2 separate regions of the Homo sapiens genome follow, and region 1 is linked to region 2. Evidence: fine-mapped expression QTL. A gene starts in region 2. The other region holds a variant in brackets. All regions are shown on one strand. Distances are between the middles of the regions.

The links. PIP is the estimated chance that this variant, and not a neighbour inherited with it, causes the effect. A credible set is the group of variants that fine-mapping cannot tell apart.
Region 1: its variant is the best candidate, but not a certain one, in a credible set for the expression of GLP1R in whole blood (TOPMed, PIP 0.58).

What each region holds. Positions count from the first base shown.
Region 1 is chr6:39,066,591-39,076,894 of GRCh38, reverse strand. GLP1R (glucagon like peptide 1 receptor) reads right to left here. Exons shown (of 13, transcript NM_002062.5): 6 at 3,880-4,033; 7 at 3,126-3,285. MIR9983 (microRNA 9983) reads right to left here and starts at 2,581; the gene lies at 2,514-2,581. RefSeq lists an enhancer at 2,311-3,168. The variant A/TA (reference allele first, on the strand shown) is at 5,917.
Region 2 is chr6:39,044,020-39,054,323 of GRCh38, reverse strand. It overlaps GLP1R (glucagon like peptide 1 receptor), which reads right to left and starts at 5,543. Exons shown (of 13, transcript NM_002062.5): 1 at 5,406-5,543. The coding sequence starts at 5,483. RefSeq lists enhancers at 1-223, 4,359-4,859.

The sequences.
Region 1 (10,304 bases), 23 kb before region 2:
CATATGAGGAGATGGATCAGGGACTCAGAAGGGCACAGGTGGGGCTCGAATTCAGGGCTGCAATCCCATACCCACTCCCACCGCCCTCAATGGCCTTCTGCACTGGCTGTCTCCATGCTCGTCTCCGTTGGCCCCTCCCTCAGTGTTGGAGATGTGTCTGAGATAGGTAAGCATGTGCATATTAAGGTATGTAGACATGTGTGTGTGAGGGTGTGGTGGGTGGACCATGAGTGTGCACGTATGACTTTGGGAATCTCTGCCTGGAGCACATTTCCAGGACAGAACCACTTCATAGCCTTTCCTGTCACCATTGTCTATGTCTTTAGCACATCAGTGTCCACTCAACAGCAGCTACTAAGCAGGTTGTGTGCCCAGATCTACTGTGCCTGATGATGCAGGGAGAGATGGAGGAGGCAAAGGAGCCCCCAGCGGACCAGCATTCTTCATCAGCTCTCTCTCTCCTGGCCCATTGATTTCTACACAAATCGGACCTCTCAGCATCTACGGTGCTTTAGTAACAGGCCTTTATGAGACTGGACAAGGAATGGGATGGTCTCCAAAGGCCCCAGCACATGGTACAGGCCCTGCCACATAGAAGATGCCCAGTGAGAATGGAACGAATGATGGGTGAGTCAACACACCAATAAGGGAAGGAACATTGTCTGGGCAAGAGCATGCCGATTTCCTGAACCACGTACACATGCAGAAGCTTCCTTCTGGGTATCCCTCGCCCCCTGCTGTCCCTTCTCTCTGAGACCTCCTTCCAGGATCAGGGCACTCACCCATGTTATCAGCCAGACCTGGCAAGTTTCACTCATCGTCAGCATTTCCTTAACAAGGCCTTTTCAAAAAACACAGTCACGAAAGCCCTGCTGCATGCAAACATTACGCACTCCCTGCTGGCTTCATCTTTCTCCCATTTAGAAAACGAGCAAGACAGGTTGGAGAAAAAAGCTCAAATTAAGACACACACAACTGGCTCCAGGAAGTAATGATTCCCTCAACCATCATTTGCCTCCCTCTTGCACAGCCTCCATGTGGGTTTCTACAGGCCCCCAACTGCCTGGGGACTGCAGCAGAAGCTGCCATGCCCTTTGGGGGACCTCTCCAACTGTGTCAGAGTCCTAATTTTAATTCTTCCACTTGCACATGAAGCTGAAAGTTGTTTCCCAAGTATCCCAGCTTGGGCAAGGCCTCCTGGCATCACGTCTGAGCTCCTAGCAACCTGTGAATCTCTCTCCGTCTCCCCCACCCCAATCCTCAAGAAAAAGGTGTTCTGATTAGAGCAGGGTGTCCTCCGGGTCTTGCCCTTGTGCTCCCACAGACCCCGAGCCCTGAGCTAGGGTGTGAGGTGGTAGGAAAAGGACTTGGCACTCCCTCCCCCATCTCCCACTCAGAGACCTCTAGGGCAGTGTGTCCCCACCAAACTCCAGCCACCCCCGCTCCTCTGCACACATCACACACGTCCCTTGATTGTTCCTGCCCTCGGGTCGCCATGGTGACAGGCACTAACAGCGCTGATGCTATTTCCTAGAATGGACAGACACCGTCCCCCACCCTGAAGACAGCCTTCCCTGAGCTGCCCTCGATGGCCTCCCTCCTCCTGCTCTAGCAGGAGGAAGAAGCCTCGGGGAGAAAAGGCCAAGGAAGGGACTGGGTTCTGGGAGTGGAGGAGGCAGGTGAGGAGCAGGGATCTGTGAGCAGGAGCCAGGCCTACCTGCCCACCTGTGCAGAGGCCTGAGCCTGCTCAGGGGTGCTGCAGGGGACTGAAGGGATGCAGCCCAGGCAAGAGAACAGGGCATGATGGCCGCAGGCCCAGAGCCTGGGAGTCAGGAGGCCTGGGTTCCAGGGCCTGCTCTGCCTGTAAGGCCCTGCCAGCTCTGGGCCTTGGTGTCCTCAAGACACTGGTCACATTAAAATCTCTCAGGCTACTCTTCTCCTGGGGGGTGGGGGGAGCTGTATAGAGAAAAATGGCTGAGGAACACCAGTAAAAATAAATGAAGTGCAAGGACAGGGGATGGAGAGCTTGAGAGGGCAGAGAGCACAGAACCACGAGGACTGGTGGCCTGAGGCAGCTTCCTGAAGAGGCAGCGGACACCCTGGTGTGGGAAGGATGCTCCCTGAACATTCCTGCATGGAGAACAGCCTTGCAAAGGCTCAGGGACAGGACCATTGTCAGGGAAGAGGAGTCTGGATGTGACTGAGCTGGAAAGTCCCCGGAGGTCCGTGGCAGGGGCAGCCGTGGTCAGAGCAGCGTGAGGTGGGCGCATGAAGGAAGGAGGAGTGAATGAAGGAGTGGCAAGCAGGGCGGGGGATGGTGTGGAACAGGAAAACTCATGGATTCAATGGCAGATTAGGGAGGACAGAGGGCAGGGCCTATTCTCTGGGTACCGTGGGTCCCTCCAGAAAGGCCTGTTGCATGTTTTCCCAGGGGTGAAGGGGATCCCAGCCCCCTTCCCAACCCCAATGCTGCCCCTCATTACAATCCCACGTGGTGAGAGGCAGAAGCACAACCAGAAATGTTCCAGCAAAAAAAAAGACACAATGGTTCTTGGCAAACTTTTTTGGCTAGAACATTTCCAGCTGGGCTCCAGGCACATCCGCCGTCCACCCTTTCCTTGGCTGGCCTCTGGCCCCCCTGCCCCACTGTACTTGGCTCTCCTCTGAGCCCTCCTCTTCATCGTCATGTGACAGAGCACCAGCAGGCTCCCCCCAGCCAGCCCCCTACCCTCTTGATCCCCTCCCCACCTTGAGGCCCAGGACTCACCATTTCCCTCAGGCCCTCGGGCTGCCCGGGACTGGGTGTGAACTTATGTCCCCATGTGGTCTTAAGAGAACAGTGCCATGACCTCCAGTGGTGTGCATGATAGTGGTAGAGGGTGGTGTTTGGCCACATGCGGTGGAGGCTTCCATTAAGGGAGGAGAGTTATGCAGAGGAGGGGAGGACCATAACCCCCTACGGCATCTTAACAGCACCGGGGCAGAAGGTCCTGTGCCCAGGAAGAGGGTTACCCAGTGGGCCTTGCCCCTTGCTCAGCAGTGCGTTCCAAGTACCATGTTAGAAGAGGGGTCAAGGTCTCCCACCCCCGTGCCACAGGTCCAGGGTGGGTGATGGCGGTTCTTACCCCAGCCTATGCTCACGTAGAGCCTGAAGATCCATTGCTCAGATAAGACCGAGAAGGCCAGCAGTGTGTACAGGTACACGCCCTCCACCAAGAGCCAGTAGTAATTGGCCGCCACACAGTACTGCATGAGCAGAAACACCAGGCGGCAGCTCAGAGAGTCCTGGGGGTAGAGGAAGGGTGTCATGGGGACAACAGCTCTGCCCTCTGCCTCTCTTGATACCACTCCCCGTCCTGCTCCAGCCACTATCCTGCCATGGTTAATGCAGGAGGAGAGAGCTCACATCTCTGGCTAGGGCTAGTGCTAAGGACTTTATCTGCTTTAGCTCATTGAATCCTCACTATCCTGATTGGAAGAAAGTAATGTATCCCCCTGCAGGTGAGAAGTAAGTGACTTCTCACCTATTTCTCAGCCTCAGAGAAGTAAGTGACTTGCCTAAAAGTGTACAGATAGTAAGTGACAGAGCTGACATTCAAACTCAAGTGTGTCTCCAAAGACTACTCTTTTGTGTCAGACTGAGAATTCCCTAGGGCAGTGTCTCCTCCCTTAGATTGGGAGCTCCCTAAGGTAGACTGCCTCTCTCAGCAGACTGGAGGGTCCCAAGGCGAACTGCCTCTCCCATCAGACTGGGGGCTCCCGAAGGGCCAGGACTGTTCGGCTCTTGTCTTCTCCTGTCCCAGGCCTGTCTAGGGTGGCAGAGGCAGGCCTCCTCCAACCGCCCATCCCTCCTGAGGCGGTCCTGGATGCACCACACACCTGGTAGGAGAGGAGCCCATCCCACTGGTGCTGCTGGGCGGCTGTGCTATACATCCACTTCAGGGCTGCGTCCTTGATGAAGACGGACAATGCTCGCAGGATGAAGGATGCAAACAGGTTCAGGTGGATGTAGTTCCTGGTGCAGTGCAGGTGTCTGAGGGAGAAAGCAGGGCCTTTCCCTGGCAAGGCAGCCAACAGTTCTGCTCTACAACCCCAGGCTCTCAAGCTAACACACACATTAGGCATGTTTCCAGCCCTGGGACTGTGCGTGTGTCTTCTTCTATGAATACCCTTCTTCCTCATCATCGTGAAAATCCTTCTGTCCAACTCAAATCCTGCCTCTCCATGAAGGCTTCCGCTATGTAGTCACTGCCCCCTCCTCCCATCCACATTCTATCCTTCTCTCTGCAGCATCTTCTTTGACACAAAGTCTTGCATAACCAAAGAGATTTATGCATGAGGATCAGTTTCCCCAGTGGGAACACTGCTTCTTGTTGACAGGGCCCACATCCTAAATGCCTCACAGAGGCAGAGCAGGACTAGGCACTTGGTAGGAATTCAGAAACTATTGGATAGAGTTTTAATATCCTTTCATGTGAAAATGTGTAGCAAATTGAAAGTACAGGGGCATTTCTTAACCTAATGAAGGCTATTTACCTAACCAGGGGCAAATATCAATCTTAACTGAGAAACTGTGGGAGCATTTCCTTTGAAATCAGGAACAAAATAAGGATGTCTGTTATCACTGCTTCTAGTCAACATTGTAACTACAGATCCTGCCCACTATAATAAGGCAAGGGAAAAATGTACAAGAATCAGAAGTAAACAAAATAGTTATTATTTGTAGATGGTAGATTATCTTCATAGAAAATTCAAGAAATCTATGGACAAATTATTAGAACTAATAAGACAGTTTAGCAAGGTTGCTGATAAGTATGTTTGTATATGCCTGCGTTAAAAAAATTTAAAAGTAAATGTTTAGAAATAATTCTTTTGCAATATTTTTAATTAACTAGCTTGAAATGAGTCTAACAGAAGATAGGTAAGATCTCGATGGAGAATTTTATAAATCTTGCTTAAAATCATTAGCGAAGACTTAAACTAGTGGGAGATAGATACATCACATTCACAGATAGAAAGACTCGCTACCTTAAAGGAGTCAAGTCTCTCCGTATTCATAAAAATTCTACCTTATTTTTAAAGTAGAACTTTAAAAACTTATAAAGAAGAGCCAGGGCTAAGAATATTCCAGACACTCCTAAAGAATCACAGAGGAGGAGATTTTGCTATATGATTTCTAGTAAATCTACAGTAGCTAAGGCACCATGGTATCCGGACAGGGAAAGATAAACAGAAAAAAACTGTAGGTGACTGAAACCAACCCATACATACGTGGAGCCTTGCTGCATGGAATGGCAGTCATTGCAAACCAAGGGGGAAGGAAAGGCTATCAATAAATGGTACTCAGGCAGCTAATTCCACATACAGAAAAAAAAATGAAATCCTTTATTTATATCATACGCAATATGAATTCCAAGCAGATCAAAGAACCACAAGGAAGAGCAAAACTCTGAAACTTACAGAAAATATAGACGGCCATCTTTATGACACTAGGGTAAGGAAAGATTTCTTTTTCTTTCTTTCTTTCTTTTTTTTTTTTTTTTTTTTTTGAGATGGAATCTTGCTCTGTCGCCCAAGCTGGAGTGCAGTGACGTGATCTCGGCTCACTGCAGCCTCCACCTCCTGGGTTCAAGTGATTCTCCCGCCTCAGCCTCCTGAGTAGCTGGGATTACAGGCGGGTGCCACCATGCTCACCTAATTTTTTGTATTTTTAGTAGAGATGGGGTTCCACTGTGTTAGCCAGGATGGTCTCGATCTCCTGACCTTGTGATCCACCCACCTCAGCCTCCCAAAGTGCTGGGATTACTGGCGTGAGCCACCGCACCCAGCCAAGGAAAGATTTCTTAATAAGACTGTCCAGAATTTGTTCTTTGGAAAAAATGAATAATTTTAAAGCAATCAATAAAATTAACTGTT[A/TA]TCAACTGCTTAATCTTTATTGATAAATTTTATTTATCAATACTAAATTGATAAACTTTATTCCATTAAAATGAAGAACTTCTGTGCATAAAAAACCATAAAATGAGTGAAAAAATAAGCCACAGACTAAAGAGAGGGTAAATCCTGGATAAGTATCCAGAATATATAATGAATATGTAAAATAGAAAAGAAAAACCCAAATAAGCCAATGAAAAAGTAAGCAAAGGATATGAAAAAGCAACTCACAGAAAAAATCATGAAAAAAAATGCTTGATCTCTTTGGGAATCTGGAATATGCAAATTAAAATCATAAGGCAATTTCACATACTTCAGGTTAGCAACAATTAAGTCTGAAGACACTAAATATTGGTGAGAAGGCTAGACAAAGGAAGCTCTCTTTTATTACTGATGAGAGGGTAAACTGGTGTGACCACTGTGAAGAACAACTTAACATAGTAAAATTGCGAAAGCAGGTGGTAGTCAGACCTGGCAATTCTACTCCTAGTTATATGCCCCAGAGAAATGCACAAGTAAGAATGTACATTGCACCCAACATTTGTAATTCAGAAAGAAAAAAAGAGAACAACTCAAATGTCCATTAAAAGGTTGACAGATAAACTGTGCTGTATTATACAACGGAATATGGAATGGTGGTTAAAAATCCACAAAACAGGACTGCTCGTGTCAATGTGAATGAATCTCACACAAACATAATGTTGGACCAAAAAATTACAGAAAAATATTTCTATGATTTGAATGTTGTGTTCCTCCAAAATTCATGATAAAACTTAATCCTTAATGCAATGATAGTATTAAGAGGTGAAGCCTCCAGAAGATGATTAGATCATGAGGGCTCTGCTCTCAAGAATGGGATTAGCGTCCTTATAAAAGAGGCCTAAGTGAGTTTGTGAGCCCTTTTTGCCCTTTTGCCTTCTGTGATGTGAGGGCATAGTGTTCACTCCTTCCCCATCATGTGAGGACACAGTGAGAAGACACCATCTCAGAAGCAGAGAGCAAGCCCTTACTAGACATCAAACCCACTGGTGCCTTGATCTTGGGCTTCCCACCCTCTAAATTATGAGAAATAAATTTCTATTTTTCAAAAATTACCCAGTCTAAGGTATTTTGTTATAACAGCAGGCACAGACTAAGATAGAAATTGGTACCGAGAGTGGGGAGTCATGTAACAAATACCTAAAAATGTAGCAGTAGCTTGGGAACTGGGTGGTGGGATAGAAAAAAGTCTATATTTCCACAAATGGGCCATACAAGGTGATTCTGGTGAGAGCTCAGAAGAAGATGAGAGCTATGTAGAAAATTTCAGTCTTTTTTTTTTTTTTTGAGACAGAGTCTCACTCTGTCGCCCAGGCTGGAGTGCAGTGGCACGATCTCTGCTCACTGCTCTGCTCACTCCGCCTCCCAGGTTCACGCCATTCTCCTGCCTCAGCCTCCCGAGTAGCTGGGACTACAGGCGCCCGCCACCGCACCCAGCTAATTTTTTGTATTTTTAGTAGAGACGGGGTTTCACCATGCTAGCCAGGATGGTCTCGATCTCCTGACCGCATGATCCACCTGCCTCGGCCTCCCAAAGTGCTGGGATTACAGGCGTGAGCCACTGCGCCCGGCCAAAAATTTCAATCTTCACAGAGATTATCTAAGTGGTTGTGAACATAATAATGGTAGAAATATGAACAGTAAAGGCCATTCTGATGAGGTCTGAGATAGAAATGAGGAGCATGGCATTGGAGACCAGAGGAAATGCCATCTTTTTGTTACAAAGTGGCAAATAACTTGGCTGAATTGTGTCTATGTCCAAGTGTTTCATGGGAGCAAAGACTTATGAGCAATGAAATAGAATATTTGGTGGAAGAAATCTCTAAGCAAAGTATTGAGGGTACAGCATGGCTGCCCTTGACTGCTTATAGCAAAATATGAGAAGAGAGAAATGAAAGATGAAATTTATAATCAAAAGAGAAGGAGAACTTAAAGATTTGGAAAATTTTCAGTCTGACCATATTGTAAAGAATGCAAAAGCATGTTCAGGAGACAATACCAAGGGTGTGGCCAAGTGAACATTTAATAAAATTAGTATGGGTAGAAAATGGAAGAATGACCCTGAATGCACTTCAGAGATCTTTCAGGTCCAGATGTCAGGGTCTTGAGAGCAGAACAGTTCTGGGGGAGGAGCCCAGGACACTGTGAGGCATTGGAAGTCACTGCCCAGGGCCACCTCCTGTCTCTGCTCCCTACACTTGGGTGCAGTGCTCCTTGGCTACCCTAGCTGCGGCTCAAGTGGGCCCAGGTATAACTCAGGCCGTCCCTCTGGAGGACGTAGCAGTAAACCTCGGCAGTGTTCACGTGGTGCTAACTCTACAGACACACAGAGTGCACGAGCTGTAGGGAACATAGTTACTTCTTTGAAATCCAGGAAGACCTAGATTTCAAAGGATATCCTGGAGAGCCTCAGGGCCCAGGCAGAGTGGAGGTTTCTAATAAATCTATAGTAGTTAAGGCACAGGTGTGGGGCCGCTACAGAGAGTCCTGACTAGGGCAATGACTAGCAGAGTCATGGGGGGCAAGATTCTCCTCCAAGACCCCAGACTGGTAGAGCCACCAGCACACAACTCCAGCCTGTGAGAGCTGCCACATGAGCTGAACCCAGCAAAGCTGTGCGAGTGGGGCTTCGGGGAGACTTGGGGACCCAACTCCCACCTCCATATCAGGAAGGCAGGACACTGAGTCAAAGAAGATTATTCTCAAGCTTTAAGATTTAATGTTGTTTGTCCCATTAAGTCTGGATTTACTTGGGACCAGTTACCCCTTTCTTCCTTCCTATTTCTCTCTTTTTTTATTTGAATTTTAATTCTTTATTTTTTTCCAGATAAAAAAATAAACAATTGTATTTATTTAATGGTCTCTTACATCGGTCAGGCTGGTCTCCAATCTCTGGCCTCAAGCAGGCTTCCCACTTTCGCCTCTCAATTAGCTAGGATTATAGGCATGAGCCACCACATGCAGACCTATTGCTCCCTTTTGAAATGGGAATGTCTGTCCTATGAAATGAGAATGCCTGCCACAACATTTCATTTTGGAAGCACATAACTTCAGTGATTTCATAAGTTCACAGCTAGAGAGAAATTTCCTTCAGGAGGAATCATCCCTTGAGTCTCACACATACCTGATTTAAATAATATTTAGATGAGACTTTGGACTTAGACTTTAAAGTTAATGCTGGGATGAATTAAGACTTTGGAGCCATTGGGATTAAATGAATGTATTTTGTATGTGAGGAGGACAGGAATTTGGGGGGGCCAGGGGCAGAATGCTATGGTTTGAATGTTGTGTCACTCCAAAATTCATGTTGAAACTTAGTCCCCAAGGCAATAGTATGAAAAGGTGAAGCCTTTAGGTGATAAGGTTGATGAAGGCTCTGCCCTCACGAATGGGATTAGTACCTTATAAGAGACCTGAGGGTGTTTGTGAGAGCTTTTCACCCATTTGCCCCTCTGCCATGTGAGGACACAGTGAGAAGGTGCCATCTTGGAAAGAGAGGACAAGAACTTACTAGACATGGAATCTGCTGGTGCCTTGATCTTGGACTTCACAGCCTTCAGAATTGTGAGGAATATATTTCTGTTATTTAGAAATTACCCAGTCTAAGGTATTTTGCTATAGCAGCAGGAAAAGACTAAGACAAATATGTTCAATACACTATTAAAAATACACAGAACCTTGCTATATATTTCTATAGCTACTCACAAATGTGGTAAAAGTACAAGGAAATGTGTCGGAATTAAAAGAGGCACATTCAGGGCTTACCTCTGATGGGTGTAGGGCAGGGAGAGGGATGGGATCAGAGAGGGTTACCCAGAGAAGTGTAACTATGGGACATGTTATTTCTTAGGCTGGATGGTGTGTGCATGAGTGATCATAGTATCAGTCATTGCATTTTTGAATCACTGGAATAATTCATAATAAAAGAGGAGAATATTCATTGAGTGAATGCATTTATTGAGCACCGTGTGCCCAGGACTGTGCCAGGTGCTTTGAAGGTAGGAGAGGGAATGCCACCTCTCCTGCTCTTGCTGCCTGGTGTCCTGAGGTCTCATTCTCTCAGAATCCCTTCCCTCTTTGAACCCAGTCCCCCTGGCCCCCCTTCTCCAAGTGCAGAGGAGTGGGAAGAACCTGGTACTCTGTTCCCAGCTCCTAGTTTGGAAGGAACGTCTCATCTAGGTTAGATCTAAGGAGGAACTTTTCCACTGGGGCTGAAAAGCTCCAAAGGGAGGAAGATCTCTAATCCCCAAGATCTTTTCTAAAATCATACTGAATTCTTGATTATTAAAGTTACACATGTTCATTGGAGAAGATCTCCTGGGATTTTCCGTAAT
Region 2 (10,304 bases):
AGACTTCTGGCCTCTCCCACGCCTCGTATTTACAGAAACCATAACTGTGCCAGGTTCTGGGTGGTCGTGGGTGGAGGGGAATGCAGGGAGTATAAAGGTGACTGCAGGAGCCCTGCCTGAGAGAGTCTTCAGGCTACTCGGGGGTCAATGCTTTACAGGACAAGTGACATAACAGGGAAGGCAGTGGGTGAAAGTGTTCAGGGAGTGGTTGGGGCAGGGTTCAGTGCAGACTCAAGAGGCCTGAGGGATTGGGGACTGTGAGGTGGGGCTGGGGTGAAGGGGGTTGGAGGCAGACTGGGCTAGCAAGGAGGAGGGCGGGCACTTCAGCAGGAGGGCACAGCAGGGAAAAGGTACAAAGGTGGGGACATCAGTGCTCCGGAGAGCAGAGGAGAGCTGTGGACTGTTATCAGGAGGATTTTTTGGGGCAGGGAGAGAGTGGTGGTGGGCCCTGGGACAGATGGGAGGTTCTGGTCTGGGGAAAGACTGAGTAAATGAGGCTAGGGCCACCCAGTGCCATAGGGCCTGGGTGCCCAGGTAACATAGTGGAGGCTGAACAACCCTGGCCTTGGGCTCAGATCTGGGCCTGGACCTGGGTCACCCAGATATTAGGTTTGCAACCGAGTGCAAGAGTTGTATGTTTTAGGCTCAGCTTACACTTGTGCAAAAGGGAACAGCAGCCCCTCCCCCATGGGATGGCTGTGGGGACTGAGTTAATGCTTAGGATGGTGGGCACATGGAGAAGGCTCAGTCAATGGCAGCAATCCCCATGATTTCTACTGTTTAGTGGAAAGGGCAGAGTGGGAGGGAGTGACCAGGCTTCCTGGGGACTGGGGCCCCACCCCTTCCTCACTTCTAGGATCAACATATTCCCAGAAAGAGGAAATGAATATATGTTCATGTCCAATGACCAATCATTCTGCTTAATTTGTGAGATCTTCCAGCAGTAACCACAGCCAATGGCAAAGTGAAGCAGGGAGGAAGCTTTGGACCCCATGCCCTGTGAGGAGGGGCAAGGCCCTGCCCACCAGTGTCCCCCACTCCTCCATTTCATCCTCCCACAACATAAGTCCCTGCTGCAAGCCTGACAAGGTGGGGCTGTGGGTTCTGGGTAGCGGGAAGGATGCAATCCAGATGTCCCTGTCCCTCACAAGGCAGCAGAGCTGACCAGGAGAGCAAAGCAGCGGTCAGAGGGGGTCTAAAGGGCCATGGGAAGGGCAGGATGGCAGTTTCTAGAATCAAGACTTGACAGGCTTCATGGGATCTCTCTGAGGTGGATGAAGGCACGTGGAGACGACACCTGGGTTGGAGGTTACAAGAAGGAAGGGGCATCCCTCAGATTCAGGAGTTTTTGGAGGAAGCAGGAGACAGGAAAGAGGACACCAGGAGGGAGTGGTGTGGTCTACAGGAAGGAGCACTGGACAGCGATTTATAAGTTCTTGGTCTAAATCCCAGCTCTGTTAATGCAGGACTGTGGGACACGATTTATCTTTTAGGACCTCAGTTTCCTCATCAGTTGCCAGTTCTGCCGTCCATAAAATGGGCATATCATTCTTCTCAAACTGCACAGATCCAACAAGATAAAGCAGGTGAAAATCTTTGTGACTTCTCAAGCCCTGTACAAGCAGGCAGCGTTGGAAGGAAGGACAGCAGAGAAGGAAGCAGGTGGAGTGGAAGCCCCCGGGGTGGTGGGCTTTCCAACACCCCAGGAAGGGGCTCCCTCTCCAAACACTGGCTGCCAATCTGAAAGGCACTCCTATTTCTCAGTGCGAATAAGTGTATCAGATTCTTTCTTTCTCTGGGGACCATTTTGGTGACGGGAAGGAGGTGGCACAGAGGTGGGAGACATGCAGGAAGGCCTCTCAGAAGGAGGAAGGAGGGATTCCAACTCAAATTTCTGGAGTCCCCCAACTAAGTCCAGCCCTTCAGGTTCCCTGGCATCTCCTCCCAGGACCCCAACCTCCTTCCTCTGTGTCACCTCCCAGAAGTCAAATCACCCCTTCCATCAACAGACCCCTGTCTCTTTGACCGCCCCTTGTTTTTCTTTCTTTCTTTCTTTTTTTTCAAAAGCTCAGAGCTTACAATCCATTTTTTTTCCCTAAGGGCTTTAGATATCTGAACGAAAGGACAGGAAAAGGAATACTACACACATGTTCTTACAGTCACAAAAACCCCCACGTGGACACACGGTCACACGCATCATCACACACGCCCCCAAGCACATTCCCAATACTGAGACACTGACACAGACTCTCTCCCACCACACACAATCACTCACAGACTGCCAGGTACACAGTCGCATGCTGAGACACTGTCCCCAACACACACACACAGAGGAACACACAGACACTCTCACATGCACACTATCTCTCCTGCACATATAGACACACACTAGTTGACACCCATTCACACACCAAGATGCCCCCCCCCCCACACACACACACAGACCCTCCCACAGACACAGTATCATATGCAGGGTCACAAAAACATAGACACTGTCAGATGTACAGTTGCATGCTGAGATGTTGCACACACAGGGACTCATTCCCACACAGACTGTTACACACAGGGTCACTCACACATACCTGGGAACTGGGGGTTCATATAGCCTACTCCCTTCTCCCCCTGGTCTGTCTCAGACTACCTGTCTGTATCTCTGTCCCCTCCTCCAACCACCACCACCACCACACACACATAGGAATTTTCCTAGGGGCAGGCTGCAGCTGAGGAAGCCTGTTTTGCCTTGGTGCAAGGCATTCGAGGGCAGGATGTGGTTTCTTGGTTGCTCCTGCCCCAGCCCCCAGCCTGGGTCCTGTCCAGGAGGAAACCCAGCTTAGAACAATGTCCGCACTGATCAAGGCTCAGCCCTGGACTCCACCTGCCATTCACTAGAGTACAGAGACCCAGGGTCTCCAACAGCCCCTCTCTCATACTATCCTGCAGCCCTGGAAAACACTTCTGGATCCCCAAGGACAAATGGGTCAGTTCTGCCATTTGACTAAAGTGACTAAAGTTGCCATTTCAGGGGCCAGTGTCTCAATCCCCTCCATAACCCTATGTGATAGAGCTTATGATCCTTATTTACAGATAAGGACATGTATTGGGGATAACCAAGTGTCCAACTCCAGATCACCAGCTAATAGCAGACCCTATATTTGAATCCAGTTGTGTCTGATTTTAACTTTGAGTGTCAAAGGCTTGCCTGTCTCCTCAGTAGGCCCGCTCCCTCACCAGGGTATTGGAGAGGTAAGGACCAGGGTAGGGGAATGAGCCTTCCCAGCAGCAATGAAAGAGTAGCCTAGGGCACCTTCTTCAGAAGTCAACTCAGCCATCCCCCTACCTGCAGGGATGCTGTTTCCAGCCTCACGAGACCTGACAGTGAGCAGCTCACTCTCAGAGGTCTCCCTTCAGTCCCGTCTGAGTAGGAGGTGTTAGGTCAAGAGCCCAGCCCTTCACCCCTTTCTCTTCCCTGCTCCTGAACTGCTGGGCTACTTTATACAGGGGACCCTCTTTTTCTGAGCTTTCATTCCCCCATCAGCAACATGAGGGGAGTAACTCTAACCCTTTTGACTTCATAGACAGAAAACAAAATGCAAAATACACTATTTTTTAGTCTTATAAGCACGCATGATGTTGTGTCATAATTGTTGCAATCTATCCTTAACACCTCCTGTGACTCAGATCTCTGTGGCAGCTCAGTTTCCCATGACAAGAGCACCCCCTCAAAGCTCCCCTCCCTGCTAGGACCTGTCCCCTCCTATCCTTCTCTACCACCCCAATCCTGTTATGCCCCCAGGATGCCCAGCTTTTGCCTTAGGCCTGGGGCTAAGGAGTAAAATCGGATCAGAGGAAAGTGTGGGTTCAGGAGCCTGACACTTCTGGGAATAAGGCCTCTGGGAAGACAGCTCACAGAAACTTTCCTCTTCCCTTTGCTTTCTTCCCTTCATTCAAACCAGACCTGTAAACCTGGCCTGGAGGAGGATGGAACCAGGAAGCAGAGCCTCCACCCCTATCCCAACCCAGTCCGTAAGAGGAGGGAACGATGGGCAAGAACCACATCTTGGGTCTGCAGCCCTGGCCCCTGAAAGATCCCAGCCGCACCAGGAAAACCAAGGCCTGGCTGGGGGCGCTGTGAGGAAGGTGTCTTGGAAGGGGGAGGTTGTCTCCTGGGGCTCAGGACAGCAGCTGGGCTGGGGAACAGGGGCAGGGAGAGGATGCGTCTGGAAAATAATCTGGGGGCTGAAAAATGTGCTGGCATCTTAGCTGAGAGGTATGTCTGTCCACATCTGGGGTTTCCGCCGAGGTGGAGTCTGCCCTCACCAAGGCAATGGTTCTGGGACAAACTTCAAGGTTCGTTCAGGTCCACTCCCCACAGATCTCAGTTCTTTAGGTCTGGGGGTAGCAGTGGGAGGTGATAGGAAGAACCTGTTTCCTGACCCAGGACAGGCCACCCAAGTCTATGTCTCCTCTCTGCTCAAGCAAGTCCCAGCATCTTTGGACAGCTCCCCTCTTCAAAAGCAGCTGACCACTGTCCCTAGCCCAGGATCCCAGGGCAGGAAAAGCAACAAGGGCAAGAGAGAGGGGCTGCGGTGGTCCACCTGTGGCCTGCTCTCTGGTGGCACCAAGGAGCCCAGGTGTTCTTGCGTGTCCCAGTATGCCTTCTCTTGGGGCCTGCTGTCAGTGCAGGATGAGAATGGGAGGTCAGCAGAGTGGGTGAGTGGGGGCGCCTGGCTGCTTCCAGGGGGGCACTGAGCCTTCTGCCTGTTTGCTACAGAGGCTGGTAGGGGACGGGGGGTAGGTTCCATCTGGGAGGTCACTGGGAAGGACAAGCTGCCACCGCAGGGCCCCAGGAGCCATGAATCAAAGGCTGTGCTGGGGGCTGATGAGAAAGGGAGAGGAGCCGGGTCTCCGCACCCTGGCCCTCTCAGCTCCTCCCAGGGTCTTCTCAGGGTCTTTGAGCAGGTGGATTGTCTGGGGAGGCACTGCGGGAGAGGGGTCTGGGTCAGACTGTGGGGCAGAGGGAGTCCGGGAGGATGCCGGGCTGTGCCAGGGCCGCTGACACGGTTTAGAAGGAGTTGGGAAAGTGCTGGGGACAAAGGAGAAGCGGAGCAGAAGTCAGCGCAGGGCGGCCGCGGGGCAGCGGGTGCCCGGGCAGAGGGACCCGGGTGGCGAGGAAGAGGGCGCCTCGCTGGGGTTGGGGGGAATCCTCTGTAGTCCAAGCCCTCACCTGGGCCTTCCAGCCCAGGGGCACCAAGTCTCCAGTCCCTACTCCCCCCGAGGCTTTCGGATGCCCCCGCCAGCGGTCTCGGAGTTTCGTTCAAGTCCCGGGGCCCTCCACCAGGACACTGCGCCTGCAGCCCGCAGAGCCACCCGCCTCCCCCGGTGTCGTCGGGGTCCCTGGATCTCACCTGGGGGCGGGGGCCGGCCCTGCCCACCATCCCGAGCAGCAGCAGCGCAAGGCGCAGCGGGCCGGGGGCGCCGGCCATGGCGGGGAGTTCAGGACTGGGCCATCGCTGCCACCTGCGGAACCGCGTGCGGAGACTGATCCCGGGCTGGTGGCGGGCGGTGGGGGAGGAGCCGGCGAGGGGCCGCCCTGCCCGCGGGAGGGGCCTGGCAGGGTCCCGGTTCTTCCGGCCGCCAGAGACCCCTGGGCCCGCCCCGCCGCACCCCTCTGCCGGTCCCGGGCCAGGAGATAGCGGGCACTGCTCTCCGAGCGAGCGCGGCTGGGAATCAGGAAGCGCAGGAGGCGGCCACCAGCTCTGAGCGCCGACAGTGCGCCTGGCCGGCTTTCAGCGACAAGCCAGGCCCTCCTCCCACCCTGGCACCCCGGACCTCCTCCCGGGTCTCCCAGCTGAGGAAAGCTACAGCAACCCCCGCCCATTCAGGGTCCCTCAAAGGAAACTGAGGCCTGAGGAATGGACGGGACTTGTCCAAGGTCACACGGCTTGGCAGGCCACTCCTGGAAAGTATCCTCAGAGCCAGGGGTGACTAATAAGAACTTTTTTTTCCCAGGATTACCCCTTCCCAGGTCCTCTTCTCATTCCCATGTTCTGTCCTGAAGGCAGGCCCAGGATAGTCAAGGTTGGGGGTGGGGAGACTGACAAATGGATCCACAGAACTCTGACAGTCGCAAGGGTCTAGAGGTTCCCCTCTACCTGGAAACTTCAGCATTGCAGGGCAGGGAGGGATGAGGCTGGGGTCTGCCTTTCTGGAAGCTTCCCTGCCACCTCTTGCAGCTCCAGCCTCCTGCTCTTGTAACCTGTGTATGTGTGATAATGTGTGTCCATGGTTGTTCCTGCCTTCTTTATCTCTCTCCCTGCTTCGCTTCTTGGGGACTCTGGATCTTTCCTGTCTGTTTCCACTCCCACCCCTAAACACTGCAGGGCCCTCAGGTTCCCTTCTTACACCCAACAAGTGGAAAGAGAATGCTAAGAGGGCACTGACTGTATCTTCCCTAATGCTCTTGAGAAGTGGGGATGGGAAAAGAGGATCCCCCACCAAAGAACCTTGATGCCACTCTTAGGAAAGATGAGTTGTGGCAGAGCCCAGCCTCGGACCTGCCGTGGGGCATGTCGACTAAAGGGACAGGAAGTTTGTGAAAGTAGCTACTCCTGGGGAGAGAACTGAACTTCTCAAAGTCCTGAGGAAGGCTGGACCTGCCTGAGCCCAGGGAAGGAGACAGCCAGTGGGAGGGGCCCCTGGCTTCCATTCACCAGGAGAGACTCTCCTCTCCAGCAAGCTCTGGTTCCACCACCTGAGACTCGTTTATTCCCTCCCCTCCCAAGAGGTCAGTCTAGCAGGGACCTTCTAGGTATCACTTAGGATTAGGTTGTTCACCTGGGAGTGACAGAAAATCCCACCCCAAACAACAATGGCATAACCAAGGGCTCTCTCATGTAAAGCAAGGCCAGAGGTTCAGCCCAAGGTTGGAGTGGCTGCTCCCTGATCATCAGGGTGCCTGGGTCTTCTAGCTTCCACCATCCTTTGGTCCAAGATTTCCACCTCATGATCCAAGGTGGCTGCTCCAGCCACGATATCCAAATTCCAACCAGCAGGAAGGAGGAATGGGAAGGAGATGGGTGCACCTCCACCCATAAAGACACATCTTGAAAGTGGCAGCCATCAATTCCACACCTCTTGCTCAGAACTTAGTCACATAGGCACTGCTAGCTGCAAAGGAGGGTGGGAAAAGCACCCTCTATTCCAGGCAACCATGGGCAAGGTTAAATACTGGGCTTTTATACTCTAGAAGAAGGCAAATTTTAAAAAAGATACTGGAAGTGAGTTTTAGGCACTGCTATATCAAGTTTAGGGTGGAGAGAGGAGAAAGGAAGAGATAGAGAAGCTATTCAGACAGAACTGGGGTCTTTATCATGAATTTGTCAGCCTCCAGATTACATTGATTCAGCAAGTATCTATCGAAAACCTACCATGTGCCAGACACCATTCTAGGTCCTGGGGATACAATTGGTGATGCTGTCCCTATCTTCAGAGAGATTATATTCTAATACAGGAGGGAAACATTAAATAATTATTGGAGTCATTTATAATTGTGTAAGCACTATTATGGTAAGCAAATGCCCCCAGTACTTATAAGGCCATGTTTTCTCTGCCAGGGGGCTTTCTCTGACTTGGAGAACATTTTTGCATTCAGCCAGTGCAGGGTAGGTACCCCTAAGAGCAGCTGTCAACCATGGATGGACAGGAGTGGATGGATAAATACCCCATCCAGAGGTGTGTACCACAGTCTCCCAGAGGTCCCCTGTGCGATGGAGCCCAGCTTCCCACAGCAGTTACCTGCTCAGTAATGCACCCTGTGTTGGCTTCATTTCCTCACTTGTCCCACTTTCCCACAGTAGGGTACCAGTGCTTCCGGGGTCACACCTCACATAAACAATTTGGCTGGGCATGGTGGCTCACCGTCTGTAATCTCAGCACTTTGGGAGGCCAAGGTGGGCGGATCACCTGAAGTTGGGAGTTCGAGACCAGCCTGACCAACATGGAGAAACCCCATCTCTACTAAAAATACAAAATTAGCCGGGCGTGGTGGTCCATGCCTGTAATCCCAGCTACTCGGGAGGCTGAGGCAGGAGAATCGCTTGAACCTGGGAGGTGGAGGTTGCAGTGAGCCAAGATCATGCCATTGCACTCCAGCCTGGGCAACAAGAGTGAAACTCCGTCTCAAAAAATAAAATAAATGAAAAATAAATAAATAATTTGTCCTTAAATCCTTATCTCAGGATCTGCTTCTGGGAGAGCCCAGCTGAAGACAGTGGGCATATGAGGGTATTTAGGAAGCTCAGGGCCTGTCCCTCCTCTTAACATCTGGGGGTCCAAAAACCTCTGAGTTTGCTGTGATGCTAGGACAGAGTATGGACTCGGGAATACAGTTTCCTTCTTTCCCCTTGCTGTTACCAGGGCCTCTCACTCAGGCTCCTTAGAGCAGAGGAAAGGATGAGCTCCCTAAGAGCAGAGATTTGAATGGATGGCATACTGTTTGGTAAACTGTTAACACCTGTAATCCCAGCTACTCGGGAGGCTGAGACAGGAGAATCGCTTGAACCCAGGAGACGGAGGTTGCAGGGAGCAGAGATCATGCCACTGCTCTCCAGCCTGGGTGACAGAGCAAGACTCCATCTCAAACAAACAAACAAGCAAAAACCCTTGAAAACAAAGACAATAGCTACTACTTATTGGGCCAGGAGCTGCTGAATGCTTGGTGTACCCTGATCTCATCCAGTATTATGCACAAGTGTTATTGTGCCAATTTTATGGATGAGGAGACCGAGGCTCAGGTATGAAAAGTGAGTTGCCCATAAAAGCAAACAGGGCATTCATCCCAGGTCCACCTGCCCTGAGAGCTGGTGCCGACACCCCCAATAGGCAGCTGAATTTGTGGCAGCACAGAGGATGCAGGCTGCAGCTCAGCCAGCCTGTCCGGGAGCACCTCGCTCTACAGCCCAGAGCTCCGGGTCCTGCTCCTTACCCTTAGGCCCAAGGCTTCTCCAGTGACCCTAGCGTGGGGTGCCCTCAGCTTCCACTAAGAAAATGTGGTATTGAGATTGTCTTCAGAAATAGGAATGGGAGCAACTGATGTGTGCTCCTGAGGAAAAGGTGCTGTAAGGCCCATTCGCCAAGGAGGCAGACCTGAGAGCAGGCCACCCGGCCCTCTTTTGTCTTCAACAGGAAAACCTTGTCCCTAGCAGGAAGACCAGGTCAGTGGACAGGACAGATTTTTTTTTTTTTTTTTTGAGACAGAGTCTCATATTGTCACCAGGGCTGGAGTGCAGTGGCGACACTGCAACCTCGCCTCCTGGGTTCAAGTGATTCTCCTGCCTCAGCCTCCCCAGTAGCTGGGATTACAGGCACCTGCCACCACGCCCAGCTAATTTTTGTATTTTTAGTAGAGATGGGATTTTGCCATGTTGGCCTGGCTGGTCTCGAACTCCTGACCTTGTGATCCTCCCGCCTCAGCCTCCCAAAGTGCTGGGATTACAGGCGTGAGCCACCGCGCCCGGCCCAGGACAGATCTTTCACTTGAGAGGAGGCAGGAGGGAGAGAGAGGCAGGAAAAGAGAGGGAGGTTGTAGAGTGGAGAGGAGGAGAGGGAAGGAAAGGGAATTGCTAGAAAAGACAGGTGTCTCTTCTTTTTTTTAATTTTTTTTTTGAGACAGAGTCTCGGTCTGTCACCCAGTCTGGAGTGCAGTGGCGCAATTTCAGCTCCTTGCAACGTCCGCCTCCCGGGTTCAAGTGATTCTCGTGCCTCAGCTTCCCAAGCAGCTAGGATTACAAGCTTATGCCACCATGCCCAGCTAATGTTTGTATTTTTAGTAGAGACAGGGTTTCACCATGTTGGCCAGGCTGATCTCAAACTCCTCGCCTCAAGTGATCCACCCACCTCAGCCTCCCAAAGTACTGGGATTACAGGCATGAGTCACTGAGCCCGGCCAGGACAGGTATCTCTTGCACGCATAGTTCAGGTTTCTTTCCAAGCTCCATGTCCCTAAGAAACTCATTTACTTCCCAAAGTTCAAGACCACATTCATCTTCTGAGTGATGAAATAAGGAAAGAGCCAGCATTTTTTTCAACCTGATATAAACACACATGCATACACATACCTAAACACAGATTTTTAGAGTCTGACAGTCAAATCCATCTCAGTCACTTACTCTGTATCCTTAATAGCACTAAACCTTGGTATAAAATGGGTCCAGTAATAAGAACCAATATTTACCGAGCATTTGCCTTGAGCCAGGCACTGTTTTAGGAGCTGTATATGTGTTATTTCATCTAATGCTCACCATCGC